Homo sapiens: one gene and its partners. The protein of the gene in region 5 interacts with the protein of the main gene of each other region in a pairwise test. Each region holds a gene or a part of one and is shown on either strand. Other genes may lie near its edges.

Region 1 (4,316 bases), on a different chromosome or scaffold from region 5:
CCAGATGTGAAATTCATTCTCTGAAAAGTTTACTGCATGGAACTAGAAGTAGCATTAGCAATAATTTTAAGAGTAGCATTCATAGGTATTGATACAGTAACATGAAAGTAAAGCTAACAGTTCCAGTAAAGTACATTTGTATTCTGCTTTTCTTATTCTTATTGCATTTTCCATATTGCTACATCGTATCACATGACTATCAACAATTATTTATCATTGAATGGTTATATATTATCCCACTGAATGGATGTGTACCTGTAATTTATTTAATCAGTCTTATTAACATAGGCTACCATTTTATACTTTCAAATGTGTCTTCTATATAAGAATATGGAACACAATTTACCACTGGCCAATATTCGTAACCTTCAAACTTTTTCTATCATCTCAACTGACATTCAAAAGGGTATTAACCAGGCCAGGTGCGGTGGCTCATGCCTGTAATCCCAACTCTGTGGCAGCAGTGTTGAGGTCAGCAGTTTGAGACCAGCCTGGCCAACATGGTGAAACCTCATCTCTACTAAAACTACAAAAATTAGCCGGCTGTGGTGGCGCACGCCTGTAATCCCAGCTACTCAGGAGTCTGAGGCAGGAGAATTGCTTGAATCCAGGAGACGGAGGTTGCAGTGAGTTGAGATCATGCCACTGCACTACGGCCTGGCCGAGAAAGCAAGACTCCTTCTCCAAAGAAAAAAAAAAAAAAAAAAAAAAGGTATTAACCAGTTATGTCTGTGTGTGTACATGCACATGTGCGTGCAAAATTCTACACACTTTGTGGCAATGGGTGTTTTCAGGAGGACAAGGAGAGAGACAGAGACAGAGAACTAGTGTGTTTAAAAATAAAAATTTCTAAGAAACAATGATAAAAAAAATCTATAAACATTATATTTACCCTTAATGCTGACTAGACCAATGCTTATAAACTTAAAAAAGCAAAAAGTGAAACATACAAAAGGAAAAATAAAACTAATAAAGGCCATAACAATCTACAAATGGAAAATTATAGGTTCAATTTTTAAAAGAATTTTCCAGCAACCTCACTTTTCTCTCTCAGAGTTTCCCAAAGTGGAAGGGACAGACTGCCTTCCCCATTTGGCAGATAAAAAACAGGAGCGGAGGCATTCAGTGTGATTTGCCTAAAATTACTGACAGAACTGAGAGTACTATTTCCACTTTCCTAAATCCTCCAGTGTACCTCAAGAAAACACATAGAAGACTCACAAGCCCAAAGATGGAGTAACGACCATGAAAACTGGAGCATTTTACTACTTACAAAATTTCAAGGGAATGAAAATTTTAGAATACTTATTAAATCAAAATGGAAGAGAATTAACAAAAAAGCTCTACTTAATAGCTTTTCTAAGCATTCTATTATAGTATTTATCTCCATGGCCTGCAAACATTAATCTACTTCAGGCACTTCAGAGTATAAGCCATAAAACACATTTAAATGATACAAAGGAGAGAAGATAAAATCATTATAAAAACAGCAATCAGAAAGCCCTCCATCTTTGAGTATATTAATATATACCAGTGCATTCTCTATTAATTTCTCTACCAACTTCCCTAAGAAAGCTTCAACACTGAATGAATAATAATAATAAAAAATTTCATAAAATATGCTCTTTCTGGGGTACTGGGGGTAGGGAATGATTGACTTGGTAAGAGTGAACTTGAGTCAACAGTTAATAATCCAAGCCAAATTCCAGACAAATGATGTTCTGTTGACTCTTGAATAGAAAAGAATAATTCAGTGATTAACATATTCCCCCACTCCCTAAACTATATTAAGCTGTCTTCTCCATATGTTTAGAATTTCCCTCAGGAAGCATTTAACTTCTGCAAAGGTCTTTTTAGTAATAATTTTCTATGCTCTTTCCTGTAAGACCATTAAAAAAATTTTTTTTGTTGTTTTTTGAGACAGGGTCTTACTCTGTCACCCAGGCTGGAGTACAGCGGCTCAATCATATTTCACTGTGGCCTCTACTTCCTGGGCTCAAGTAATCCTCCTGCCCTAACCTCCCAAATAGCTGGGACTAGAAGCATGGCCCACCAGGCCTGCATAATTTCTTTTATTTTTTGTAGAGACAAGGTCTCCCTATGTTGCCCAGCTGATCTTGAACTCCTGGCCTCAAGCAATCCTCCTGCCTTTGCCTCCCAAAGTGTTAGAATTACAGGCCTAAGCCACCATGCCCAGCCTTCTGTAAGGCCATTAAAGAATATAACATTAGGAACTAAAGTTGGAACTGGATGGGTTATTCTGAGGAAGGATTTGATGTCTAATAAAAGGAGATTTCCCTGCATTCATAATACAACCAGGAGCTTATCTGAAAAGTCAGCAATACCTTCCCATTCCGTTATCCCCTTACATAAAAAACCTAAATATTTACCAATTCTAATATTTGGTAAGTATACTTGGCTATTCATAATACTAAAACAATAGGGAGCTCCCCAAATAAAGCCAATTTGAAATGGTTTAAGTCTGTTGCATGGTATAATTTATTTATTTGTATTAGTATTTTTTTTTGAGACAGAGTCACACTCTGTGGTGTGATCTCAACTCACTGCAACCTCTGCCTCCTAGGTTTAAGTGATTCTCCTGCCTCACTCAGCCTCCCAAGTAGCTGGGATTATTGGGTGTGGCACCACGCCCAGCTAATTTTTATATTTTTGGTAGAGAGGGGGTTTCACCATATATGGTGGACAGGCTGGTCTTGAACTCCTGACCTCAGGTGATCCGCCTACCTCAACCTCCCACAGTGCTGGGATTACAGGCATGAGCCACTGTGCCCAGCCTAATTTATTTTTAAAAAGGCTAGTTTACATGATCTGGTTATTTTTTATTATTAAGGCTCATTTAGACACTAACAGTTCAGTAGTAACTAGAAGAATTAAATTCTGTTGCTTTATCAAATATTAAAATATAATGCTGATCCAAAAACAGCCTCCCAATTTTAAGCAAATTCGTGCTACAAAAAATGAACAGCATTATTCAGTCAAAGCAAATACTCTGAAATATACTTACATAACAAATATTCAAGGACATCATTTTAAAGATAAATTTTATTTCAAAGCTATTGTTAAATATACCAACAAGAGGCAGGCGGATCACGAGGTCAGGAGATCGTGACCATCCTGGCCAACGTGGTGAAACCCAGTATCTACTAAAAAATACAAAAAATTAGTCGGGCATGGTAGTGGGCACCTGTAGTCCCAGCTACTTGGGAGGCTGAGGCAGGAGAATGGCGTGAACCTGGGAGGCAGAGCTTGCAGTGAGCTGAGATCTCGCCACTGCACACCAGCCTAGGCGACAGAGCGAGACTCCATCTCAAAACAAACAAACAAACAAACAAACAAACAAACAAAACAAACCCAACATGAAGTACTATACTAGTCAGAATTCAGATTTCATTTAGTTTTCAGTGTCAATCCAACTTGTGGTCAAGATATTTTAAAGTTCAATAAACCTATTTGTTACCGTATCCTAAAACTGCTTACTTTAATACAATCAGTTAGAATGAGGTGACATATTCTTGAAACAGCAACAACATATGCTCATTGTAAAATGTTTTAAATATTAATTTAATAAACAGAAAATTCCAGGAGGAAGTAAATATGTAGTAACAGATAATTTTGTGATTATTAGGATGATTATATAGCTACCTTAGTGTTTCTAAAGGGATATTTTAATTATTCTCACAGTTTAAAAACCATATCTCTCAGAGATGAACTTTAATTAATTAAAGTTTATCAACAGTGCAGTTTTCAGGCCTGTTTTGACAATAATCTTTTGTGATTATAAATTGAGTAACTAATAACACTTAGTATTGGGTAATTTATTTCAAATAAGATTATAATCAGCCTATCAACAAATGAGGCAATATGTAAAAGTGATTAACTGAACTAATAAATTTTTTTATGCTTAGGTCCAGTAAGTCCCAAGACTTTTAGAGAGAATGCAGTATGGTAAAACTGAAATAATACCTCTCAAGAAGACAGATACTTGGGTTCTAGAGGATCCACTCACAATCAACAAGTCTCGATTTCCATAGTCCTTAGATCCCTCAAATATAAATTAGGAAAATTATTTTACCTGCCTGAAGTTGAGACCAAACTAAATAATCTCTTGAATAGTATGATTCTATAAGTGACTGAAAGTGCAATCTTGCTTCTGAAATTTGAGCTACTGTCAAAAGCGCTCAGCAACATTGTGAACTGAGCATATGGCCTTAACTCCAGGGTGCATGGGTAGGCTGGGGTAAAGAAAAGACAGAAAAATTAAAAGCCCAGGCCCGTGCCACTTATGGGAGTGGGGC
Region 2 (4,316 bases), on a different chromosome or scaffold from region 5:
GGCAGTGGAAAGGACCTAGCTTCTGGATCTATCTTGAAGGCAGAGCCACCCGGATGTGCTGATGGTTTGGATGTGAAACACGTAAGAAAAGATGGTAACGGAGGTTTCTGGCCTGAGCAATTGAGAAGACAAGTTACCATTAATGGAGAAAAGGAAGAATGAGAAGAACCTTGGGAGGTGTGAAACAGCAAAACTCAGTCACCTGGGATAGCCCAAGTCCTAAGATGGGCTAAACAAACACCATAATTTCTCAGACAGCCAGCTATAGCCTTGGAGACCTTTCAGTTTGGTAGACTTTATCCAGCTCAGCACTGAAAAGAAAGAGGCTTTGGGCCGGGCGCAATGGCTCACTGAACCTGTAATCCCAGCACTTTGGGATGCCGAGACGGGCAGATCACCTCAGGTCAGGAGTTTGAGACCAGCGTGGCCAACGTGGTGAAACGCTGTCTCTATTAAAAATACAAAAATTAGCCGGGCGTGGTGGCACACGCCTGTAATCCCAGTTACTCGGGAGGCTGAGGTACAAGAATTGCTTGAACCCGGGAGGCGGAGGTTGCAGTGAGCCGAGGTCGTGTCACTGCTCTCCAGCCTGGGCGACAGAGACGTTTTCTCAAAAAAAAAAAAAGAAAGAAAGAGGCTTTGCAAACCTCAGGTTTTTGGGCCGGCTCTCTGGCCTGTGCGGAGCACACCCCACAGCGACTGCCACGGGGCTCTGGCTCTCCTGGGACCGGGTGGACCCACTTCCACTGGTGAGCGCAGCCTGCATGGGAGCTGAACCCTGTGGGAAGCGGCACCCCGGGCGCTGGGGAGCAGCGATCCAGAGTCCAGGTTCTGAGCTGCTGCACCGGGGCCGCGATCTCCACCCCTCACGCCCGAGTCCCCGGCACGGCCACCACCGGCCCCTGGGTCCCGAGGGCCCCGAGGAAGAGGCCAAGGGGCCTGGCGGCGCCCCCCAGGGTCCCAGTGGAACAGGGGCACCAGGGCCGCGGCGCCGGGCATGGCCTTCACACTCCCCACGAGGCAGGACAGCCCCGGGCTAGGGTGAGGGGCACGCGCCGCAAGTCCTGCCTCTGCTCCCGGGCGGCCCCCTCCAGCCTCCGCCGGCCCCGCCCCGGAAGCGCAGCCCCGCCTCAGGCGCCGCATCTCCGCCCTCTCTTGCGCCTGCGGGACCGGGAGGGCCGCGCTCGCCCCCCAGCGCCAGGGTCACGCCACCGCGCCCTGTTTGGGGAGCGGCAGAGGAGTCAGGGCGGAGGCTGGGCGGCGCTGGGCGGTGGGGCGCGCTCACTGGCTGCCACCTCACCTAGCAGGCGTCACAGGGCTCACTCAAGAGCTCCAGCAAGAGCAGAGGCGGGAGCCTCGCCAGCCCCTCCACAGACCACAGCGACCGCGCCCCTCGGCCCGGAGGCCCCGCCCTCCCCACTCCTGCTTCCCCAGCCACGGGGTCTTCTCCCGGCCCCTCATCTACTTGGCAGACGCCTCTCACCGGCAGCCTCTGCCTCCCCCTGGTCTTTCCCTCCCACCACCCACCGTGGAGTCCTCTCCGGGAGGCCCTGTCCTCCATCCAGCGCTCCTCAGAGGGGACCGGAGAGGAGGCGCTCCTTAAATGGGGAAGAAAGACGGACAGAGCCAGGGACAGCGAGAGACGGGACGGGGACAGAGACACAGAGACAGAGAGACAGGGCCAGAGAGACACGGGGATGGGGCCAGAGACGGGGCCAGAGACAGAGACACAGAAAGGGATCTTACTCTTTCTTCCCTTAAAACCAGCTTCTGGGGGTCTCCGAGGGGGACTCTCAGGTAAGTAACAATATTATCACCTTCCCTCCCAAGAATTAAAAAAAACAAAAATAACGAAAAAACCTTTTCCCTGAACTTGATTTTGAGGGAAAATAGGTCACAGATACAACCCACAGCCACCAAAACACACATACGGATGCTGTGAGAAGTGGTGGGTCAGTGCCTCGCTGGAGGACAGGAGGGGCCTCTGGGAGCTGGGGGGGTGGCCCCTGAGAAGCCTCAGGGTCTGGCCTGGCTCAGAGGCCTGGGGCGGAGTGGGGAGCCCTGGACTTGGGAAGCCTGGAGGCTCTTCTGGCCCCCGCTCTGCCACAGGGAGCTCCTGCAAACAGCAGGCCCAGGGCACCCCACGCGTCTGCCCAGGACACCCCAGGTGTTCGCCCAGGTGCTGAAGGCCCAGGCTGGCCTCCATGCAGGGTTACCCACCACCCGCCATAGAGAAGTAATGCGCCACTCCGAAAGAAAGGGGTGCTGCCGGCTGGACGCAGTGGCTCACGCCTATAATCCCAGCACTTTGGGAGGCCAAGGCGGGTGGATCATCTGAGGTCAGGAGTTCGAGACCAGCCTGGCCAACATGGTGAAATCCCATCTCTACTAAAAATATAAAAAACTAGCCGGGCGTGGTGGCGGGTGCCTGTAGTACCAGCTACTAGGGAGGCTGAGGCAGGAGAATGGCATGAACCCCGGAGGCACAGGTTGCAGTGAGCCGAGATTGTGCCACTGCACTCCAGCCTGGGTGACAGGGTGAGACTCTGTCTCCAAAAAAAAAAAAAAAAAAATTAAGAAAGAAAGGCATGCTGCTCCTGAAGACCTTCTGCTTCTCCAGCAATGGACTAATGGACTCTAAGACACTGCCTGAGTTCAGAGATGGACAAAAGGTGACAAGACACCAAGTGTGAACAAGAGCAGCAAAACATACAAACTGCAAAATGTTGATGGGGCAAAGGTGAAACTAAGAGAAAGGGTCTTGCTCAGTCACCCAGGCTGGAGTGCAGTGGCATGAATACGGTTCACTGCGGCCTAGACCACTGGGGCTCAAGTGATTCTCCCGCCTCAGCCTCCCGAGTAGTTGAATGAAGCTGCTCCATGAAGAAAGACCACTAACTAAACATGTAAGAACTCAGGAGAGAAACGGCAAGGAAAGAGGAGAAGGTGAAACATGACCTGGCAGAAGTCGAGAAAGTAAAAGAAAAAAAATCAAGCCACCACCCAAATGAAGTGGAGATTGGAAGCAGCACAGGGAGAAACAAACACCGGGAAACACAGCGGAACACAGAGGACAGAAATGAGTTAAAAAAAAAGACAAAAGATAGAGAAATGGAAACAAAGTTAGAAGGACGGGAACGCCTGGCACACTGCTGATGGGGACGTGAACTGGCACAGCCTAGTGAAGACCATCTGGCATGTGCCTGAGAGGTTAAGTGTGGAGCAGTGGCCCAGGACTGCCACTCCTGGAGACATGCACTCCCAGCAGAAATGACACACCTGTCCCCACAGGACGCTGCCCATGAATGTTTACAGCAGCACCATTCCCAACAGCCCCAAAGTGGAAACAACACAGATGTCCGTCAACCAATGAGTAAACAAACTGCAGTATATCCAGACAATGGAATGTTATTTGGCCATAAAAATGAAGCACTAATATAAGCTGCAATTCAAATGGCCCTTGACAACACACCATATGAAAGCAATCAGGCTCAAAAGAGCACATATTCTGCAATTCCATTTCTGTGAAAGGTGCAGAACACACACATCTACAGAGACAGAACGTGGGTCAGTGTTTCTCCACAGCTGCGTTCTGTGGCAGAAGACGCTAGAGTCACACGTAGAAGGCGCATGAGGAGGGAAGGTGAGTGGCAAGGATGCTACGGCTGGCCACAGCGATCCTTCCAGATTGCAGGCGCGTGAGCTGGCTCACTGACACGTGCAGTGAGTGCGAGCTACAAACTAGATTCCGAAAACTCAGTCCAAAAAGTCTTCAAATAATTCAATAATCTTATAGTATGGGTGGTTGCCTGTTGAAATAATTTTTAGATAATATCGGGTTAAATAAAATATATTATTAAAATCGATTTCACTTGTTTCTTTTTACCTTTTTAATGTAGCTATTAGAAAATATTAAACTACATAAGAGACTCACTCTCTAGACCTTTTCGACAGTGCAGGAATGGAGTTTTCAACCCTTGGCACCCAAGGAGCTTTGTTTCTATGTCTTCTCCCTGAGGACATTACCAGCAGCTGGATGTCATCAGGAGACAATAGGGAAATGATGCGGAAAGAAACCTCCGTAAACACTGAATGTACTAAGCCAAAAAAAAAAAAAAAGCGGTTATAGAAACAACAAAAAAAAACTGGTTATAGGTGGTAGATGCCTGGTCGTACAGGCATGACACTCAACTCATAGGACCCTTGAAGGGGCAGAACTCCCCACTGGTCTTGTCCCTGAGAGCTGACACCACAGAGGCTTACAAATGAAGTAGCAGTGGAAGATTTCATTTTAAAAACTGGGCCGGTTGCAGTGG
Region 3 (4,316 bases), on a different chromosome or scaffold from region 5:
AATGACAAAAACTGCAATTACTTTTGCATCAACCTAATAATTGTCAACTAATGCACTAATGGGCAGACCCTAGGAGGACTCATACATTTATCCACAGAGAGGATGGTGAATCAGTGTACACATTTGTAAATGGCAACTAATGTTGGAAAGGCCAAATCTGGACAGCTGTGGGGAGAATTAGTAGCTTGCATAGTGAAACTGTTATGATAATAAAGGGAAACAAGTTCTTTTTCTCCTGTGGGAAGTCAGGGACCCCGAATGGAGGGACCGGCTGGAGCCGCGGCAAAGAACATAAATTGTGAAGATTTCATTTTAATATGGACATTTATCAGTGCCCAAATAATACTTTTATAATTTCTTATGCCTGTAATCTCTTAATCCTGTTATCTTCATAAGCTGAGGATGTACGTCACCTCAGGACCACTGTGATAATTGTGTTAACTGTACAAATTGATTGTAAAACATGTGTGTTTGAACAATATGAAATCAGTGCACCTTGAAAAAGAACAGAATAACAGTGATTTTTAGGGAACAAGGGAAGACAACCATAAGGTCTGACTGCCTGTGGGGTCGGGCAAAAAAGAGCCATATTTTTCTTCTTGCAGACAGCCTATAAACGGATGTGCAAGTAGGAGAGATATTGCTAAATTCTTTTCCTAGCAAGGAATATTAACATTAATACCTTGGGAAAGGAATGCATTCCTACGGGGAGGTCTATAAATGGCTGCTCTGGGAATGTCCGTCCTATGTGGTTGAGGTAAGGACTGAGATACGCCCTGGTCTCCTGCAGTACTATCAGGCTTATTAGGGTGGGGAAAAACTTTGCCCTGGTAAATCTGTGGTCAGACCGGTTCTCTGCTCTCGAACCCTGTTTTCTGTTGTTTAAGATGTTTATCAAGACAATATGTGCACCACTGAACATAGACCCTTATCAGTAGTTCTGCTTTTTGCCCTTTGAAGCATGTGATCTTTGTACCTACTCCCTGTTCTTACACCCCCACCCCTTTTGAAACTCTTAATAAAAACTTGCTGGTTTTGAGGCTCAGGGGCATCATGATACGTGATGTCACCCCCAGCGGCCCAGTTGTAAAATTTCTCTTTATACTGTCTCTCTTTATTTCTCAGCCGGCTGACACTTATGGAAAATAGAAAGAAGCTACATTGAAATATTGGGGGCAGGTTCCCACAATATTTTTCTTTTACTGAAATCTCCCTCACAAACTGTAGTATACTCTCATGAGGAACTCTTATTCCTCAAGGGACATCAACATCTCAGGTAAACTTTATTTTGCTCTCCTATACTTAACCAGCAGCTTTTGGCATTTCCTTTTACAAGTATATTAATGTTGTATACACATAGGATAGAATATTATTCAGCCTTAAAAAGAAATGAATTTCTGACACATGCTACACGTACAACCTTCATTATGCCAAATGAAATAAGCCAGACACAAAAAACAAATACCATATGAATGTACTTATATGCAGTACCCAGAGTATCATATTCATAGAGACAGAAAATAGAATGGTTGTTGCCAGGACCTGGGGAGAGAGAGGGCTGGGGAGATATATTGTTTTAATGGGTACAGATTTTCATCTTGGGAAGATGAAAAATTTCTGGAGAGAAATAGAAGAGATCACTGCATAATAAGGTAAATGTACTTAATGCCACTAAACTGTACACTCAGAAATGGTTAAAATGGTGTGTTATGTCATATATTTTACCATATTTTAAAAAGTTTTTTAAAAGTATATTGTATTGGCCAGGTGCGGTGGCTTACACCTGTAATCCCAGCACTTTGGGAGGCTGAGGTGGGCAGATCACAAGGTCAGGATTCTGGGAATAGCCTGGCCAATATAGTGAAACCCTGCCTCTACTAAAAATATAAAAAATTAGCTGGGTGTGGTGGTGGGCACCTGTAATCCTAGCTACTTGGGAGGCTGAGGCAGGAGAATCACTTGAATCCGGGAGGCAGAGGTTGCAGCAAGCCAAGATTTTGCCACCGCACACCAGTCCGGGCAACAGTGCGAGACTCTATCTCAAAAAAAAAAAAAAAAGTATATTGTATTGATTGGGTCTTCTCTTTTTTGAACAAATATATTTCCTTACATGAACAAATTTTACAATAAAAATTTATGTCCCATTTATTCTGTTTTCAGAGATTTGCTTATTACTGGTTGGCTTTCTGTAACCACCAAGCAACTAACCACCACTCCACTATATGGATGCAAAGATACCCTTCTTTCACATCCGCTGTCTCACTTTTGCCCTGTTTCCTTGGTCTTCCTCATTTAGGTTGGTCTGCTTTCCACACCTTCTGAATTGTGAAACTTTTTTTTTTTTTTCTGAGATGGAGTCTCGCTCTGTCACCCAGCCTGGAGTGCAATGGTGCAATCTTAGCTCACTGTAGCCTCTGCCTTCCCGGTTCAAGTGATTCTCCTGCCTCAGCCTCCCTAGTAGCTGGGATTACAGGCATGCGCCACCACACCCGTCTAATTTTTATATTTTTAGGAGAAACGGGGTTTCACCATGTTGCCCAGGCTGGCCTTGAACCCCTGGCCTCAAGTGATCCTCCCATCTCGGCCTCCCAAAGTGCTGGGATTACAGGGGTGAGCCACTGCACCCGGCCGGTGCAACAAATTTAAGTTCTAAATTCCTCCAGAAAAAATTCCGGACAGTGCCCTGTAGATAGTTGGTAAGAAATAAAAAATAAGCAGATCTTCAAAAAAAAAATGAATTCTTCCTTTAAAATGTTTTGCAGCACAGTACAATTGCTCATAACTCTTCAAGATTTCCCTTGGTAACTTTTTTCAAATATGTTTGTCTATTGGTACAACTAAGACCTTTACACCCATTACCTTGATTACTAAAAATTGAAAAACTTTTTAAATTATGCCCATTATTCTTTCAGTTATTCATTAATTCAGTTTTTCATTCAACAAATAGTCTTTGAGCATATATTATATGCTCACCACTTACTGTAAATTTTTCTTTCCAAACTAGTATTTTAGGAAAAAGGGTCTCCCTGTTGCGCAGGTTGAGTGCAGTGGCTATTCACAGGCATGATCCCACTACTGAACAGCACCAGAGCTCTGACCTGTTCCGTTTCCAACCTGGCTGGTTCACCCCTCCTTAGACAACTTGGTCTCCTTCATGCCCACCGCCAGAAGGTACCATATTGATTCTGAACTTATGCAGACATGCAGAGCGCACCACAGTCCAGAACTCCCGGCCTCAAGCAATCTTGCTGCTTCAGCCTCCTGAGTAGCTGGGGCTACTGAAGCATGCCACCATGCCTGGCTACAAACTATTCTAACCAAGCATGGGAATGAGAATAGTCAAGAAGTGATAGATTATCACAAAGCAGAATGAATAATTCCCATTATCAGGCTTAGTGGAACAACAAAGCTGACACCACCATTAATTCTTCCCTAAATTAACATATGGTACATGTGGACACTGCTGTCCTCATTACATGGATGAATCTAAGAGATTGTCTTTGTACTCTAGGTGAAAGGGCCCTCCGTTTGGCCCCTCCCTGCCCTGCCAGCTAGATCTCATAACAATCAAACACCACTCCACTTTCTTCCTCATTCTCCAGGTATTCACCAGCCCAAGAGCTTCACATCTCCAGTTTCTGCTACCTGGACTGCTCCAAATCCCCACCCTGTCCTTTCCCAATCAGGTTTAGTGGTTCTCAGCCTTCTATAATTTCAAATCTATAAAACGGCAAGAAAAATAGAGTGGGATGTGTATACCGAACTAGGATTGCCAAACTTTTGGCCAAATAAGGACACTCAAAACTAACAAAATGACCCTCATATGTTATCATGTAATTTCATTAACAAATATATTTTTTACCCACAAAAAGTAGGAAGGATATAATCTCAAAATAAAATATAGATTATTTAAATTAAACTAATTTAACCTAATAAAAACTCACTACATTGTCCTCAATTTTTCTGACCATTACTCCGAATCTCTGCTACTGCCAACCCGGTTCAATAGTCCCCATCATTTCATCTCATGCCTGGATTATCACAGTAGTCTCTTACTTTACTTGTTCCTTCCATCTTTTCTCCTCTTACATCTCTCCTAAGCCCAGCAGCTGGAGGATCCTCTTCAATAGGAATTACCCTCAAAACCCTTCATTGACTCCCCAGAGTAAAAAGCCAAAATACAGGAAATTTTATCATCTGTAGCTCCAGCCCTTTAAATCTCTACACCGGTACTGTCTCATAGAAATATAACGCAAGCCATGTATATAATTTTAATCTTTCTAGTAGTCACACCAAAAAAAAAAAAAACAATCTAG
Region 4 (4,316 bases), on a different chromosome or scaffold from region 5:
CTTCTTTTTTCTTTTCTGAGACAGAGTCTTGCTCTGTTGCCCAGGCTGGAGTGAAGTGGCACGATCTCAGCCTCCTGAGTAGCCAGTACTATAGGCACATGCCACCACACTCGACTAATTTTTTTTTTTTTAGACAGAGTTTTGCTCTTGTTGCCCAGGCTGAAGTGCAGTGGCACAATTTCAGCTCACCGCAACCTCTGCCTCCTGGGTTCAATCGATTCTCCTGCCTCAACCACCTGAGTAGCTGGGATTACAGGCATGTGCCACCACGCCCAGCTAATTTTGTATTTTTAGTAGAGACGGAGTTTCTCCAGGTTGGTCAGGCTGGTCTTGAACTCCTGACCTCAGATAATCCACTGTCTCGGCCTCCCAAAGTGCTAGGATTACAGGTGTGAGCCACCGCGCCCAACTTTTTTTGTATTTTTAATAGAGATGGGGGTTTCTTTATTTTGCTCAGGCTGGTCTCGAACTCCTGGCCTCAAAGTGATCTGCCTGCCTCAGCCTCCCAAAGTGTTGGGATTACAGGTGTGAGCCACCACGCCCGGCCAGGCTCTGCTTTTTAATTCACTAAAGTAATCTTCGTTGAGATATTTCTAGAACAGACTCCGAGGGAAGGACACAGTAATGGTTTGATGTTTGCGGAGGAGATGGTATTGAAAAAGGAAATCCTGACATATTGTCACATAGGTAGTGATGAAGTAATGAAATCTTACTCCATGAGATGCTAAGTAAGTAGGCAGGTTGTCATTTTTAATGGCCTTGAGGAATACAGTGTCTTTCTGGGTATTATAAGTGAAACTTACCATATATACCAGAGATGTACCCAGTCTGTGGTCAGGCAACTATAAAGAAAGAATAAAGTTTTCTACATTAAAAATATAGTCAATCCCTGTTATAACTCCAGACTCAGAAATATGAGTTACAATATGATGTGATACCTTGTTATAAATAAAGCACCATGGGTTATGTTTTTAAAATTCACTGTAGCTAGTTGAATCTTTTGCCAAATGATATGCTTTAAATAGTACTTTATACTATAGATGGCATTGTCTGAGTCATTTTGTAAATCATTATAAAACAAACTAGTGATCATTAGAAGTGTCCATAGAAAACATGTCTGTGCCTATTGCAAACATTTATGATAAAAATGACCAAGAAAGGGCCAGGTGCGGTGCCTCATGCCTGTAATCCCAGCACTTTGGGAGGCTAAGGCTGGCAGATCACGAGGTCAGGAGTTGGAGACCAGCCTGGCCAACATAGTGAAACCCCATCTCTACTAAAAATACAAAAATTAGCCGGCCGTGGTGACGCCATCTCAAAAAGAAAAAAAAAATACTAAGAAAGAACTTGGAATGCAAGTTTACAAAGAGTAACTTTGAAAATGGATGTGAAACTTAAGGCTTGTGTATATTTGAGGTCAATAAAATGTAAACATAAAGAAAATTTCAGTTATGAGTATGAAAGTCATACAATCACATTTGTAATTTATCTTTTGCAAGCTGTTGCAACACTCCCACTGAGAATGTAGGAAAAAAAAAACTTAGTTTCTTCCTGCTATACTCTCCCAACCCTCTGACACCAGATGTGGGTGGGTGAGGATTTCCGCACACACCAGGCAAGCAATCTTCCAGCAACAGACAACAGCTGAGCGTCCTCTAATTCAATTCAATGCCAACACCACCTGCTTGGAGATAGGATCCGATCCCATAGGGTGAGGACTCAGTCCCCTAGACGGCTCCCCAGAATTCTGATGCCAATCACAATTTGTTTTGCCTGTGCTTCTGACCTACTGGTTATAAATTGGGGGTTCCCTGACTCCCTCTTGAGGTTGCGTTAATTTGTTAGAGCAGCTCACAGAACTCCGGGAAACACTTACTTACATCTACAGTTTATTACAAAGAATATTACCGAGGATGCGGATGAAGAGATGCGTAGAGCAAAGCATGTGGGAAGGGGCACGGAGCTTGCAGGTCTTCCGAGTGCACCACCCTTCAGAAACCACTGCCTGTTCAGCTTTACAGAAACTCTTCAAATCCATCCTTTGGGATTTTCATGAAAGCCTCATTATGTAGGCGTGATTGATTAAATCATTGGCCATTGATGATCAACTTAAACTTCAGCCCCTCTACTTTCCTTGGATGTTGAGGGGTGAGGCTTTAAGCATTCTGCATTGGTCCTTCCAATGACCAGCCCCATCCTAAATCTACCTAGGGGCTGCCAGCCACCAATCAACTCATTAGCATGCAAAATGATGCTACTTACTTTGGGGATTTTAGAAGTTGTATGCTAGGAGATAGGGACAAAACCAAATATATATTCTCACAATATCACACCCACCGTAAAGAGTACCCTAATTTTTCACATCCAGGATCAAAACTAATTTGCATATCCACTGAGACCAAACAGGAAGAGGGAAAAAAGTAGAAGCCAACTTTACCATGATGAAAGCTAAATAATGTTCTGAGTTCACTATGGCAATTGTAAATTTTCTCTGTAAGAATGAAAAAAAAATAGGGATTGTATGGGAGAAGGAGAAGATAAGTTCAGGAATTGGAGAATGAGGGGAGGCAAAATATTTGTGTATCTTTGAAGAGTAGTAAATTTTGTTATTTAATAATTCTTTCTGATACAGGAATCTACTGAAATCTAGTGAATCTATTTTTATTCTCTGGTCACACATTTATAGAAAATATAGTTTTGTTTTGTTTTTCACTGAACAATGACTCCTCTTGGTTTTCCCACATTTCTTACTTGTTGAAAACTCTTCTAGTTCTAATTAGACTCTGGTTTATAGGAAAGGACTCTTCCTATGGTGGAAGATGTGTAAAACCTCAGAAAGCAGGTGTCAAGTAGTCAACACCCAATTTGCATGTGACAGGTAATCAAGGCTATCACCCTTTCCCTGGGTTTAACAGACCTGGCTATTGGGAAACCCTTCCCATGGCTAAATATGTATTTTTCTTCATCCTAAACACGTTTTTATTCAAAGTGCCACTACTTTTTAAAATTTGTATTTTACAGTTCCTTTAAGTGGAATGATTCTTTTGCATTTTTATCTTCATGTCCTCTGTGTCTACATAAGACTTAAGTGTGACAGGTTTGGATTAGTTGATAACTACATCAAAGTGATAGCTAAATGAAGTCTGCCCAATAAATGTTAACATGCCCTAAAAACTAGAAAATACTTTCCCAATTTAAAGTAATAATGTTACTTTGGAAATCACCCAAATATATATGCCAGTGACTAGATACTAAACCGTCTGTCCTGGTGAGTCACTGAGGAGCAGGGCTAAGGAAGTCTTTTGCAAGTCTCTATGACTGTATAAGTTGAGATTAATCGTGCTGCTTTGATGGGAAGATTGGCTTTGGGTAAAAACATGCTGTCAGCAGTGTTATTTTGAGTGCTTAAGATGACAAAAACACGTCTTTATTTTGTGATAAGTCATCTATGAGATCTATTACTTAAGTAAAAATAAATAAAAAGAAGTCATAGATGTCTAATGACATCTTGACTCTCTTTTGGGGTAGTGATGTTTTGGTCTGTTGCTCCTTCCTCCCAGCTTGAACTCTATACTTACTGTTCAGGATTACCACAGTTTTCCTCACATCTCGTCCCAGAAAGCTGTAGAAAGAGAAATTGTCTTATACAGGGAAATTGTTTTGGCCACTGTGTTCAGCTGCTTACCAATCATCTCTCATGGTTGTGCTGTGTTAGATCAAGCAGTAAGAAGGTCACGGTCATAGGGGCAGTCTATTTAGGACTGCCATTTTCATCTCTCCCATACTTGCTGGCTTTTGTACTTGAGGTAAGGGAACCTTGAAGAACAAATATCTCATCTGTTGTGTTGATGGTGGGTGAGCATCACCCTTTGTGAATGAGAGGTAGCCATTTACATTAATTTGTTTGTAGTAGAAAATTCCTGATCTCTCTGTCCCTTGGGATATTGCCATTGTCCTCCTAATTCCTGCCCAGTTGAATTCTACACCACTGCTCTTTTTTTATCCTGTTAGTGTGACAATGACTATACAAAGGAAGAAGGGGAAAAGCGAGGGGGCCAGTGGGACAGAGAGTCTTATTTATCGAATAGCTACTAGATGCCACTCAGACTGCTAACAAGTTTTTTTTTTTTGTTTTTTTTTTTTTTTTTTTTGAGTCTTGCTCTGTCACCCAGGCTGGAGTGCAGTGGCGTGATCTTGGCTCACTGCAACCTCTACCTCCCGGGTTCAAGCAATTCTCCTGCCTCAGCCTCCCGAGTAGCTGGGACTACAGGCACGTGCCACCACGCCTGGTTAATTTTTGTATTTTTAGTAGACAC
Region 5 (4,790 bases):
GTTGTTGTAAAGGTTCTAGCAGTTTACCTCTACCATCTATTCCTGCCCTTACTTCCTCTGCACTTCTTCAACATATGGCTTGGGGAAAAGAGAAACTTGATCCCTTCCACCTAGCACCAAGAAAAACATTGATTGTTTTTCGTGTTGTAGTTCAACTTTACACGACTTTTTTTTTTCTTTTTCTTTTTTTTTTTTTTTTTTTTGCTACAATGAACCCAAAGCCCAGAGAATCCCACCAATGAAACAGATTTGGAGAGAATGGAGAGGGTAAAAAAATATGGTTCATGGCACCTACTGGGTCCAATATTACTACTTCCTGTGGTAAAATGCCTGTAAAGATTACCTCCAGCAATTCCTGTCATCCAATATGCACATGCAATCAAGAGATAGAATCTATTGCCTCACCCATGGAATCTGAGACTTGGGACTTGCTTTAACCCATAAATTGTGATAAAAATGATACTGTGCCAGTTCTGGGCTTAAGCTATCTGAGAATGGTCAGCTTCCACTATTGCTCTCTTGCTACTCTGGACTGTCACATAAGGAATTCCAGGCTAACCAGATAAAGTGAGACATCATACAGGGAGAGAAGCCATGGGAAGAAGAATTAAGACCCCCGCCCCAGGCAAAAGCCAACACAAAGATCTCAGTCATGTGAGTGAAGCCATCTTAAACCTTCTAGCCTAGCCCAGATACCAGCAGAATGCAGCCTTCTATTCCAACTAATTCACATGGAATGCTGCCCAAATCCTGACCCAGAGAATCGTAATAAAATAGTTGTTGTTTAAGCCACTACATCTTGGGGTAGTTTGTTGCACAGCCATAGATAAATGGAACACTCCATTTGTGGAATTAGATAATAAAGTTTTCTTCAGAGTAAGTTTCTTAACAGCCAGTAACCATTTAAATAGAAAGCTGATAATAGAAAGTAGAAAGAAAAAGAGGTAGAAGGAGAAAAGAGGAGGAATATCAGGGGATAAAGTTATCCACAACTAATAGAGACAGAACAAAATAAATGAGATAGATTGGTAGAGGTGGGGGAAGAAGTGAGTAAGTGAGGGAATTCAGGGACATGTGACCTAAGGAGGAGATAGATTAAGGATTCAGGAGCCCACATGGTGCATGTATGGGTACAGGAGATGTAGACGGAGAAGGGGAACACTAAATTAACAAGAAGGGGGCCTGGGTCCACAGCCCAGTTCTGTTGTAATTAGCCATCTGCCCTCAAGAAACACATTTATTCTGACCTCAAGAAAGGCATTTGTTCTATCTGGCATTCAGTTTCCTACATGGTAAAATGAGGGATCGAGATAAATAATCTCTTCCAGATTTAATTTATTTCCCTTGACAAGAAAATACAAATGAGTTTGACAATTCTTATAAACACTGTGTCCTGAAAACCATACCTATTTATGGGGTGAATGAGACTTTGTAACTATAAGTGGTTGGCTTATTTGTGCAACAAAATGCTAATAGTCTATGTTAATAAGAAGGGAAATATTGTTATTTCAGTAATGTGGAGATGCTCTATTGATAGTATCCATAGGGTTAACAATTTTTTGTCCAAAACTTCTGCCTGACTTACCACAAGGCTTTGTTTTTTATGTTAATAACCTCAATACATCATATCTAATATTATTTTCTAAGAAAAATAATTCTTCTAATGTGAGATTGCTAGATTCTTTGTTTTAAGCCAAGTTATAAATATCCTTTTTATAAAATCTCTTTGCTGTTACTAAAATATTTGATGCTCCCAAACATAGTATCACTACTCCTTAGAATATTAGTTTGGCTTTGTGAAACAAACAAGAACATTACACGTATTATTAATGGGCAAGTATTCTCTTAAATTCTTCTTCTAACATCAATTCTTTTCAGATTTTCATTAGCTCATTTATATTCACTGAATGTGTTCCTTTTTTGAACCCCATTCAGATTCAACTCCTCAAACAAACCAAGCTCACATTCTTATGTATGTGAAAGTATATTTACTGTGCAATTATCGAAGTCTGGGAAACTTTCCTTAAAACTATTTTCTATGTAGGTTATCCCTAACCCTACTTTAATTCCTTTTTATTTTTAGCTCTTAGCCTATTACTTCTGAGAAAGCTTCCTCTGATTCCAAAGTCCAGTTATTCTTATTGAACACCCTCAATATGACACAAATACACTGTTTTGTAATTGCCTAGTTCTAATATGTATTTCACATTAGACTAAGTTTCAAGAGGACAAAGATCTGAAACTAGACATTTTTTTCTTTCTCATTATAAGTTCTGCACTTACTACAGGTGTGTTCAATCAATAATTGTTAACCAAGTGAAAAATGAATGAATGTATTGCATGTGACACTGTGGGAGACATTAAAAAGAAATGGAATACTTTGTAGAACATTAAAATCAGCTATATTTGTTATAGGTATGTATATTAATAATGATACTTTATAAGCATGAAAACAACAGCTCATTTTAAGATCAATACAACCACAATTTTGCCATGTAGCTGAAGTCTTAACTTTTTCTAAATATAATATAATAAAATTTACTATCTATCTTAAAATTGAGAATAATTGAGAAAAGGAAAAGTAAACAGATTATATAGGTCTATTTTCTGGAATAAACATGACAGATGAAAAACACATCAGTAAAATGTGTTCTTTATGCACTTAGGATATTTAAGGAATCAAATCAACTATATAAAGTATTGCATTTTTCAGAATATAAAATACATGTCAGTCAACAACTTATAAAATGTTCCAGAGTGCCCCCAAGTTGCAGAGTAAAGGCCTACAATTCAGAAGCAACAAGGTATAGGAATTGGATGATATTCAACAGAGAAAATTGTGAAGCAGACACAGACATCTATTACCTTTCTAGTGTGAAAGCATACATCTTGGCAGCTTTATCATTCACAAGATACGTTCTTTCAAGAAACTCCATGACGGCCAGGATGAGCTGCGGCTGTTGTTGTCGTTGTTGTTGAACTCACTGCCCAGTTTTGGAAGCAAAGCAGCACTGCAATTATTTATACACTTTCTAAAGAAAAAATTAAAAGGCTCCAGAAATTAAAATAATGAGCTTCCTACATCAGTGTTGTTGGTAGGTCTGCTAAAATTACAGCCTCCTTGCAATATTACCTGGCTTCATTGTTTTCACCTACAAAAACTGCTTTTCTAGGGAGACTTGCAGGTAGCATTACATGAAGTGTGTATGTCTTTCATATGATATCTGATTCAATTGTGCTTTCTAAGAGGTAGAGGAGCTCAAGAGCTTGCTACAAATTGCTGATGTAGGGTTTTGACCTTCGGAGCACACGTGGGTGAGCTGCAAATAGCTACCATTCGCTACACTAAACTAATTCTTTCTTTTTCTCTCCCTCCTCCTTTTTCTGGACTCTTTATCAGCCTAAAATTATTTCTTTGGAATTTAGTTCTAAGATGACCTCTAAGCAGCTGTCAGAATTTACTTGTCTCTCCTAGGACCATTTTGGGATTTCACTATTGAAAGGGAGGACAAGGGTCAATAGTTTCTGAAACCAGTAATCTGAAAACAGTTCTTGGTACAGCAGCTTTGAAATCCTTTTGATTGGCAAGAGAAGGACAGACTCTGCTTCTACGTAAATAACAGCCCTCCAAAATACAAGAACCAGAGTGAGCTTTGTTCTTCCTGGCCAAGGTACCCTCTACTAAGGATCAAGGATTCACCCAAGGAAACCCTATCAGGCATGCCAGTTCCAGCTCCGAGGAAGGAAGCCTCTGAGTTGCTCCTGGGAGACCTCACACTCCTCAACTCCTAGGAATCAGCATTTTACTTCATACAAAGCACTTTCCTTCCCAAATAAGAGAAAGAACTATAGCCTTATGGCAAGAGCCTGGACAAACAGTAGGCATTTGTGTGTGGGCAAAAGGTTTCAAGACCTATAAAGATGTACACAACGGTAGAGAAAGAGGGGGTTGTGCAGACTGGAGAACAGGAGTAAACCCCAGACCACCAGGTTCTTGTTGCCTTTTCCTTGTGTGAACACTAACTTTCTAGTGAGAAAACTCAGAGTAGTTAAGTCCCAGAATAACCCAGTGGCCCAGAGTCACGGGAAGTTGCCCATTATGCTGAGCTGAGATCTCTCACAATGGCCTAATAAAATGAATATTGTGCTCTAAAAGGAGGATGGGGTTCAATGCCAATTGTCATAGGCAGTGACAGGAGAAGTCACCTTTGGTTCAGAATGAGACTATTAGGTCTCCTATCACATCTGTGGTGTAGCTGTACCTCTTATTATCTTAAGATTTCAAACACTCTCATCTATAACATAAATTCTAAGGTCTTCTCATATGACCCCACTCTTACTGATCCTTAACTTTGCTCACACAGTTTGGAGCCTCTAAGAGGCTCTGGGGGAGCCTTTTCCTTGCAAGTGAAGGCATTGAAATCCTGGGTCTACTGTTAGCAGAATAAAAACCAATGTATTTTTTCTCGTATATTCTTACTCTTAACCTTACAAAGTAATCAGTTATTCTGTGGAGGCGAAAGTAGAAAACCAGAAAAGAATTACTAATCCACCTGTGTGACACACTGCCATATGTCACAGCTTGAATCATTTGTGAATAGTTTCTAGCACAGACAAGAGAAATAGAATTCAAGTGAATGAATGTCAGAAAATGAGGAAACTACTTTAAATCAGCCTGAAATTCATTAAGGGTGAGTACAAAAAAAAGAGATAAGCAATATTTTCAAATCAGGAAGGAGAATATTTGGCTATAGATATCAACAGGAAATAAACAATCTGGAAGTTTGAGA
Region 6 (4,316 bases), on a different chromosome or scaffold from region 5:
TTCTCAGAAATAACCAGCCTGGTGCAGTGGCTCACGCCTGTAATCCCAGCACTTTGGGAGGCCGAGGCAGGCACATCACTTGAGCCCAGGAGTTTGAGACCAGCCTGGGCAACATGGCAAAACCTCATCTTTACTAAAAATACAAAAAAATTAGCTGGGCGTGGTGGCACCTGCCTGCAGTCCCAGCTACCCAAGAGGCTGAGGTGGGAGGACTGCCTGAGCCCAGGAGATGGAGGTTGTAGTGAGCTGTGATTGCCCCACTGCCCTCTAGCCTGGGTGACAGAGGGAGGCCTTATCTCAAAAAAAAAGGAAAAAAAAAAAAGAAAAGGAAAGAAAGAACCTGCACTCCATGATGTGAATATCTATCTATAAAGCACTTGGAGCAGCATCTGACACAGGGTAAGCACTCAGTGAAGCATGGAGTAGCTGTTTTTATTACAATTATTATTATTGAACACTTCAGGGGAGTTAAGGCCTGGGAAATAGCAGGAACTACAACAGAGGCCAGCCCAGGAGCCAAAAACAAGCTGATAACAGGGGGGCCCACAAGCGGCCACAGCAGGCTCTGCCCTGACAGTGGCACTTACCTCCGTGGGTGTGAGGGCAGGCGTGCTGTCCATCAGACCATCCTTCCCCCCAACATCTGGTGGTGGAGGACTCTCAAAGGCATGCTCTTCCTGCTTTGGGTTCATCCTCTGCTGCAGAGATGCCCTGTACTCAGACACAACTACCCAGGGAATGGAGAACAAGGTAGGAGGCAAAAATGAGACACCGTGAGTGGCACTTTAGGGGTACCCACTTCTGCAGCTGGCTGGCCTCTCTTCCCTTCACTACAGGAAAGAGTCACCCTCCTAACTCTGAGCGAGTCACCTAACTTAAGCCTCTTAAACAAAACTTAGATACCACCACCTGCCCCAGACAGCTACAGAGATTAAATGTAGTAAATGCTCAATAAATCATGGCTTCTGTAATAAATAACTCTACCACAGGGAGGAAAACAAATACAGCAATCACCCAAACATATGTACAGACTCGGGCCTCTGCGACTCAGTGCCTCTCCAGACTGCCTCAGCGCTTTAGAAGCCAGACAACAGAGGGGTATTCTGGGATCACACAGAGATGTGGTAGCAACTCCAGGTGGCTGCACCCCAGGGGATGGGTGGCAGCTTTGGGAAAAACATCCTTCCCTCATCTTCCAGAAGCCATCATATCATATAAGCAGTGATTCATCTGCCTTGGGAAGGGAGCGAAGGGAGATGGGAGCCCAATGGTAGCAGCCTCCCCTGGTGAGATTCCAGCTTCATCTAACATCTCAGAGATGCAGAGCCCATGAGAGAGGACCCCAGTGTGGTGTTGCACTTGTGGAAGCACAGCAAACTGATGATTAGCTGTAGAGACAGAAGAACTGGGGAGCCTAGCCTAGCCCTCAGAGCCAGCTTGGGCCCCATCTTTCAGGCCCTTCAGGGCTTACCTCGGAAGAACTCCACATTCCCCAGAAAGAGCGTGCTGTTTAAAAGGGTGAGAACCCAGCAGAGTGGCAGCAAATACAGCATGCAGACTGTGCCCAGAAGAGCCCCATAGAACCTGGATGACAGGGAAGAACCACAAGATCAGAAATTCGTAACAGCAGAAGGAGACGGGTTTGGAGCACACCCACAGCAGGGTCCAGGTGAGACACAGCTCTGGGCACATTAATAAACTGACAAGAGCCGCTCATCAAACCAGCGGAAAATGGCGATGAAGACTGAGAACTATCCCAAGTCACCGGTGCAAACACCTGATGCTGGTGAGGCCAAAGTGGTGTCAGCTGGTGGCACATAAACTGGTTCAACCATCATCACTCCTTAAGGTCTAGACTCTGAAGTCTAGAGTAAGACAGACTGGGATTTGAATCCAGCTCTGCCACTTCTCATTCTGAGAAGTCTCTTGGTTCTCTGGGCACAGCTCCCTTCCCGTGTAAGATGGGGACTGAAGTAGCGCCTACCTAATAGAGTTACTATAAGAGTGAGATAATACAGAGGGAGTGTTGAGCAGTGCCTGGCACCAGGTGAACACAACAAACATTAGTTATCACTATTATTCATATTAAAGAGCCTCAAAAACACCCATTCTGTTTGATATGGTAGTTTCATCCTTGAATTTACTCCAAGAAAAATTTTCTAAAACATTAAAGCTAAATCCATAAAAATGTTTACCATGGGGTTAGTAATGAAAAGGGAAATTGACTAAATCTGTAACAGAATGGTTTCACAAATTATATTTGCCATCTATATTAATCTGGTATTATAAATAATTCCAAAAGCTATATAGCAACAAAGAAAATCATCTTTAATATAATGATAAGTGGAAAACAAAAGAAAAATTGAACATACACTATGAAACTATACATCCGTAAAGTAGATGCATGTGACAAATTCTAGCAGGCAAAACAAACAAGAGATTCGGCTGCATGGTGGATTATATGGTGAGTTATTTTTCTATTATTATTTTTACCACACATAAAAGCAAGCATCTAAACAAAAGCAGTACATTAGAGCCCGCAAGCATATGTGCAGATATACACACAAGAGCCCAGGAGGCGAGCTCTTCCCCTGAGGTAAGAGGGGCAGAGGTCCTCTCAAGGCAGCTGGCTTTGCTCGGGCTCAAGCTGCAAATTCCTATAGGGTGGTGGCGGGAGAGGAGGGGTCACTCACTGTGAGGACACGACGGGGTTCTCCCAGTGCAGCACGCGGTAGGCGGCTTCACATGTGCAGCACAGGCGGCTCAGGAAGGCCTCCAGCTGGATCAAGCTACAGACACAGGGGCTTTGGTGAGTGGGCAGGACAGAAGCCCTGGGAAGTGGAGCCTGGGGCCTTGCAGGTACAGTTGGCTAGGGATGGTCAATCTCTTTAAACACACTCACCATGTGCTTAAAGAGAGAGGAGTCGAGAGAGCATGGGAGAAACAGGCCTGGCTAAGCCACCCCAGCTACATTTCAGTCCCCTTTTTGGAGCCTCTTGCTGAGGTGGAAACAGTATAAATGTTCCTGCTTTGGTCTTCTAACTGTTGATGTCAGGCAGGCTACTGAAATTCTCCAGGGCTGTGGCTTCTTTATCTATAAAATGAGGATCAGAGGACCCACCTCACGGGTACACAGCAGCTGTCAGAATAAATGGCATGATATTCTCTACCTGGGATGTGAAACAGACTCACTTGGGGAGTTCTGGTTGTTGTTTTTTTAAACATGGATGAACCACAGAAGCCATGAGCACAATCTGAACCCAGATCTGGGTTTCTGAAGGGAAACCAGGAAACATGGAGATAAGCTGATTCCAGGGCTGGGGCAGGGAAGTATAAGATGAATTTGACCATCCTGTTGTACCATAAAGGAAGCATTCAAAAATGACAGGGACCAATGCAAACAAGAGCCAACTCAAAAGAGCTCCTACTGGCCAAATCTAGGACAATTTGAGATCAAAATAAATAATGATAGTAATAGATTCTAACTCATCAAATAAAATATAAATCTATGAGTTCATACTGATAATAGTAAGAAAGAGCTTCCTTATAGTAGAAAGCCAGCTAAAAAAATGTCGATAGAATAATTAGAAGATCATCTTTGCAACCATCATAGTAATAAACTGATTAAGGCAAGACCCATCAATGGATTTTTAAAGCAGTGGATAAATGTTTGATGAGGAACAAGATATTTACATAGTCTCAAAGTATCTCCCCTCAAATTACTACTAATGAAGAGTAAAATGATAATTTACAGTATGGATGCCTTAACCAAGTGATCAAAGTCAGTATTTCCTGACATCAGGTGCCTCCTGATACGGATGTACTGAACATGACACATCACTTGTCACACTCTAAATCTGATCACAAGGAACCAAACAATCCAAAAATTAGGGAGATTCTACAAAATAATAAGCTTGTACTATTCAAAAATGTCAAGGTCACAAGAAACAAGGACTGAGGAACTGCTCCAGATTAAAGAAGACTAAAGAGACATAAAAAAATTAAACATGATGTATAATCCTGAATTGGATCCCAGATCAGGGAAACTGATACAAAGAACTTTATTAGGACACCCACACTGGCTCACACCTGTAGTCCCAGCACTTTGGGAGGCTGAAGCAGGAGGATTGCTAGAGCCCAGGAATTCAAGGCCAGCCTGGGCAAGACAATGAGACCCTATCTCTACAAAAAAATTGTTTTAATTAGCAGGGTATGGTGCATGTGCCTGTGGTCCCAGCTACTCAGGAGGCTGAGGCAGAAGGATCACTTGAGTCCAGGAGGTTGAGGCTGCAGTGAGCCATGATCATGCCACTGCA
Region 7 (4,316 bases), on a different chromosome or scaffold from region 5:
ATCACTTTGTTCAATTTTACTCATTAGTTTTATTACTATACTGAAGAAATCATCGTAGCAATCCTAAAATGTTAGGATTCACTTCTCTGATAGGCCAACTTTTATCTACCTAAAAAAAATGGCTATGATCATTAGGAATAACATAACAAGTGGGCAAAATATGGTAATTTAGAAGCAAATTATTAAAATAGCATATTCAAGACATACATTTTTTCAATTAGCTGTTTCTCATCCAAGGCATTAGGAAGATCTCTCTTGTTTCCAAGCACTAGCACCTTTAAAAAGAAAAGATATTAAGAGCACACGTTTATGCAAGAAAAAGTCACAGAAGTTTATCATCTTGATATGTGAAGACACAAAGTTAAGATGTTAACACATTCCACAATGTTAAGGCCTATTTGTGTAACTGGTGGCTTGTCTCATTCATTTCATTGCTCACACTTGTATTCACTCAACTCCCACCATGCAGGTGCTCTTAATTCAGTATGTGGCTGCCAACTGCTATGTAAAATAGTCTGAGTCTATGATACACATTCTGCTATTCTTTTTGTTTGTTTGTTTGTTTGTTTGTTTGTTTGAGACAGAGTCTCGCTCTGTCACCCAGGCTGGAGTGCAGCAGCCACTGGGCTCACTGCAAGCTCTGCCTCCCGGGTTCACGCCATTCTCCTGCCGTAGCTGGGACTACAGGCGCCCACCACCACGCCCAGCTGATTTTTTGTAGTAGAGACGGGGTTTCACCGCGTTAGCCAGGATGGTCTCGATCTCCTGACCTGGTGATCCGCCCATCTCGGCCTCCCAAAGTGCTGGGATTACAGGCATGAGCCACCGCGCCCGGCGGCATTCTGCTATTCTTAGTACAGGTTTACTATCCCTTATCCAAAATACCTGGGACCAGAAGTGTTTCGAATTTTGGAAATTTTTTGGATTTGCATTATATACTTACTGGTTGAGCATTCCTAATCCAAATGCAAATTCCTAAATGTATTCTAGAGACTGGCCTCTTCTCAGTTTCCCACTTCCTCCCACCCAAAGGCCTTTGCCTGGAACTCTCTTCCCCTCCAACTGTCATATACCTCACATTTGTATGTATCCCTTGGATCTCAGCTCAACCATTACTTCCTCGTGAATCCCTCCTTCTTCCCTCAAACTAGATCACATCTCCCCTCTAAATTACAACTCTCATATCCCCTTGCACCTTTCTTCCTAGCACTTAAAGCTGCATTATTCAAGTGTTTTCAGAGTATCTACCTTTCCCACTAAACCATAAGGTCCATGATGGCAAGGAGTATGTTTCTACTGATTTCCATTCATCACTATATCCCTGGGCCTACGCACTGCTCCTGCTGCATAGTAGTTTAGTAGATACGTGGTTATGAGATTCATATTTAGCACAATGCCCAGTATATGGCAGATACATGGTAAGCAAGTTTTCCAGATTTTAAAAATGAAGACATGTTACTGATTTCAAACATAATTAATATCACTGCATAATTACCATAATTAATATCATTATATAATTACAATGTAAAATAACAAGTATTCCATACTTACTGGAATTCCTTGTAACTGTGGTTTATCTAGAAGATTATGTAGCTCATTTCGGGAAGCTTCTATCTTTTCACGATCTGCAGCATCTATCATGTAACTTAAAAAAATGAAGTGATCTCAACATACCTTCTCTGTATGCCTTGATGATGACAACTAGTATTATTGATTTTTAATTTTTGTAAGATTTACATTATTGAAATTATTAACCAAAATAAACTATGTCATAAGAAAAGGCTCAGCACCCTTTAATACTTTTTAACTAGACTGTTTTTAGAGACTAATACATGATAGTAAAACATGTACACCCCTTAGCTCTTAGCTCCATAAACAAAAAACATAAAGATCTTATTCTATGATTAATTTTTTTTAAATCCCATGTTGGGAATTACACTAGGATATTAGCTAAGAAAGATTTTCACTGCCTGAGATAAAAATTGAGCCTCTGGAAATACTAAAATAAACTTTCTTCTTTGATGCCTACATTGATTTAAAAGCAAACAAACAAAAAAAAACCACTTACACAATAGCATTGACTCCTCTGCAATACCGCTCCCACATGCTTCGAAATCGGGGTTGTCCTCCTATGTCCCAGATCTTTAAATCAAAACAAGGCAATTCTTAATAAAGATATTTTAATTAAATGATTGCAAGAGGAAGTAACAGAAAAAAAGAAAGATCGGGAAGATATATTTATTTCTACAATGTTAGAGGCAAAGTGCTCCTGAAAGACTTGACCTCAAACAAGCTCTTAATATGGGAATTCTTGGGGCCACTTCTAAACTTGAAGTCCGTATTTAATACATTTACAATACATCTAAAATTTTGCTTAAGCAAAGATTTGGTTTATGTGCAATAGTTTGCCTGTTAACTAATATACTTCTATTATTGAAAACATATGTCTTTATGATAACAATTTAAAAGCTACAGGACCATGCACCATCCAGATTTGAATGCCAAGACAGAAAACAACAATTCAGAATCTATTAAGTCTTAATCGTCTGATTTGTTCTACATTAATGCCTAACCTTTTGAAATTATCCTGTAAATAAGTAGCCAACATTTCCACATAGGTGTTTTTCTTGTATAAAATTATTTTGGTCAGGCATGGTGGCTCACACCTATAATCCCAGCACTTTGGGAGGCCGAGGCGGGTGGATCACTTGGGGTCAGGAGTTCGAGACCAGCCTGGCCAACACAGTGAAACCTCATCTCTACTAAAAATACAAAAAATTAGCCAGGTGTGGTGGCAGGTGCCTGTAATATACTCGGGAGGCTGAGGCAGGAGAACCACTTGAACCTGGGAGTCGGAGGTTGCAGTGAGCCGAGATCACACCATTGCACTCCAAGCCTGGGCAACAAGAGTGAAACTCCATCTCAAAAAAATAAAATAAAATAAAATTATTTTATGCACATGAAAGCCACATCCATAATCATTTTATTATTGTGTCTACTCCGTAGGGCATCACACTAGACACTGGGCTACATTAAAGTCTCAAGTCACAGTATTAATCTTCAAGAGGCTTCCGGTTTAACTAAAGCACTGGTAACAAGCATAAAGAAACCTGCACTTGACTAAATCTGGAACTTCATTAGATGAGCCACAGAGAAAGTGAACAGCTTCTGTAAACCACAATAATTGGGCAAAATGGACATTAAGGCTCAGGCCATAGATTTGATTTTTGAAAAACAAAATAGATTAAAAATCTATTCTTGGCCAGGCGTGGTGGCTCACGCCTGGAATCCCAGCACTTTGGGGAGGCCGTAGCAGGCAGATCATTTGAGGTTAGGAGTTGAGACGAGCCTAACCAACATGGTGAAACCCTGTCTCTACTAAAAGTACAAAAAATTAGCTGGGTGTGGTGGCACAAGCCTGTCATCTTAGCTATTTTGGAGGCTGAGGCAGGAGAATCACTTGAACCGGGAGGTAGAGGTTGCAGTGAGTGGAGATCGCGACACTGCACTCCAGCCTGGGTGAAAGAGCAAAACTCTGTTTCCAAAAAAAAAACAAAAAAACAACAACAAAAAAACCTATTCTTTTGAAACATGCACATTCATTACTGAAAAACTGCAAATTTTCAGTAAAAACACAGAAATTTAACAGAAAAATTTCTAGGGGTCTGTGCTAACAATTTAAATTGCGTACGGCAAGAAATAACTTACCTTTATTGTGACGTTACCTTTAGTTACCTTCCTCATGTTGAAGCCCACTGTGGGTATCATATCTTCACTGAATTGACCTGACTGAACAAAATAAAACATTTGAAGTTAGGCTACTCACTTATAATGACACTGCATAAACTTCTAATATCAACATTGCATTTGTAACCATTTTAGTAAATATTTTTTTACCATTGGTAACAATCTACTTTAAGAACATGTTCCTTATGGCCATAATTCTTGAAGAGATGCATTATTTTGTCCCAACAAAGATATATTCTTCCATCTAAAAAAGATATTTTTGAAACTAATGTAATTTTTTACATATTTCCTTATGCTAAAAGAATTTTATATGACAAATACATACGAAAATTTTTAAATGTGTTCACCTAGATGTACATTTCCACAAAGTAGATGAGATCAGAAATAAAACTTTCAGCATTTAAATTATTCTGACAGTAACTATTAAAATTCACTGCTAAACAGCATTTCCAAGTCTGTCTTTTAATAAGGCTTATAAAATATTTTGTCATACAGAAGTTTTTCCTTTTATGTAATCAATTTTGTTCTCTTTTTGGTTACTTATCTCAATGTCATGAGTATTGTCTGCT

What was found.
Region 1: the proteins of SLC30A8 (region 5) and PGRMC2 interact in binary tests that used the Homo sapiens proteins (3 or more experiments, as listed by UniProt).
Region 2: the proteins of SLC30A8 (region 5) and THAP4 interact in binary tests that used the Homo sapiens proteins (3 or more experiments, as listed by UniProt).
Region 3: the proteins of SLC30A8 (region 5) and HSD17B11 interact in binary tests that used the Homo sapiens proteins (3 or more experiments, as listed by UniProt).
Region 4: the proteins of SLC30A8 (region 5) and TMEM52B interact in binary tests that used the Homo sapiens proteins (3 or more experiments, as listed by UniProt).
Region 6: the proteins of SLC30A8 (region 5) and ZFYVE27 interact in binary tests that used the Homo sapiens proteins (3 or more experiments, as listed by UniProt).
Region 7: the proteins of SLC30A8 (region 5) and ARL8B interact in binary tests that used the Homo sapiens proteins (3 or more experiments, as listed by UniProt).

The regions. Positions count from the first base shown.
Region 1 is NC_000004.12:128,273,827-128,278,142, forward strand, and holds part of PGRMC2 (membrane-associated progesterone receptor component 2), read right to left. Parts: intron 1-4,316. UniProt on the Homo sapiens protein: Required for the maintenance of uterine histoarchitecture and normal female reproductive lifespan. May serve as a universal non-classical progesterone receptor in the uterus.
Region 2 is NC_000002.12:241,609,171-241,613,486, forward strand, and holds part of THAP4 (peroxynitrite isomerase THAP4), read right to left. Parts: intron 1-4,316. UniProt on the Homo sapiens protein: Heme-binding protein able to scavenge peroxynitrite and to protect free L-tyrosine against peroxynitrite-mediated nitration, by acting as a peroxynitrite isomerase that converts peroxynitrite to nitrate.
Region 3 is NC_000004.12:87,383,873-87,388,188, forward strand, and holds part of HSD17B11 (estradiol 17-beta-dehydrogenase 11 precursor), read right to left. Parts: intron 1-4,316. UniProt on the Homo sapiens protein: Can convert androstan-3-alpha,17-beta-diol (3-alpha-diol) to androsterone in vitro, suggesting that it may participate in androgen metabolism during steroidogenesis.
Region 4 is NC_000012.12:10,181,856-10,186,171, reverse strand, and holds part of TMEM52B (transmembrane protein 52B isoform 2 precursor), read right to left. Parts: intron 3,623-4,316; coding exon 3,579-3,622; intron 843-3,578; coding exon 804-842; intron 1-803.
Region 5 is NC_000008.11:117,133,474-117,138,263, reverse strand, and holds the start of SLC30A8 (proton-coupled zinc antiporter SLC30A8), read right to left. Parts: upstream 3,270-4,790; 5' UTR 2,937-3,269; coding exon 2,866-2,936; intron 1-2,865. UniProt on the Homo sapiens protein: Proton-coupled zinc ion antiporter mediating the entry of zinc into the lumen of pancreatic beta cell secretory granules, thereby regulating insulin secretion.
Region 6 is NC_000010.11:97,746,742-97,751,057, reverse strand, and holds part of ZFYVE27 (protrudin), read right to left. Parts: intron 2,790-4,316; coding exon 2,694-2,789; intron 1,585-2,693; coding exon 1,472-1,584; intron 728-1,471; coding exon 588-727; intron 1-587. UniProt on the Homo sapiens protein: Key regulator of RAB11-dependent vesicular trafficking during neurite extension through polarized membrane transport. Promotes axonal elongation and contributes to the establishment of neuronal cell polarity.
Region 7 is NC_000003.12:5,169,976-5,174,291, reverse strand, and holds part of ARL8B (ADP-ribosylation factor-like protein 8B), read right to left. Parts: intron 3,790-4,316; coding exon 3,709-3,789; intron 2,143-3,708; coding exon 2,069-2,142; intron 1,646-2,068; coding exon 1,552-1,645; intron 276-1,551; coding exon 208-275; intron 1-207. UniProt on the Homo sapiens protein: Small GTPase which cycles between active GTP-bound and inactive GDP-bound states.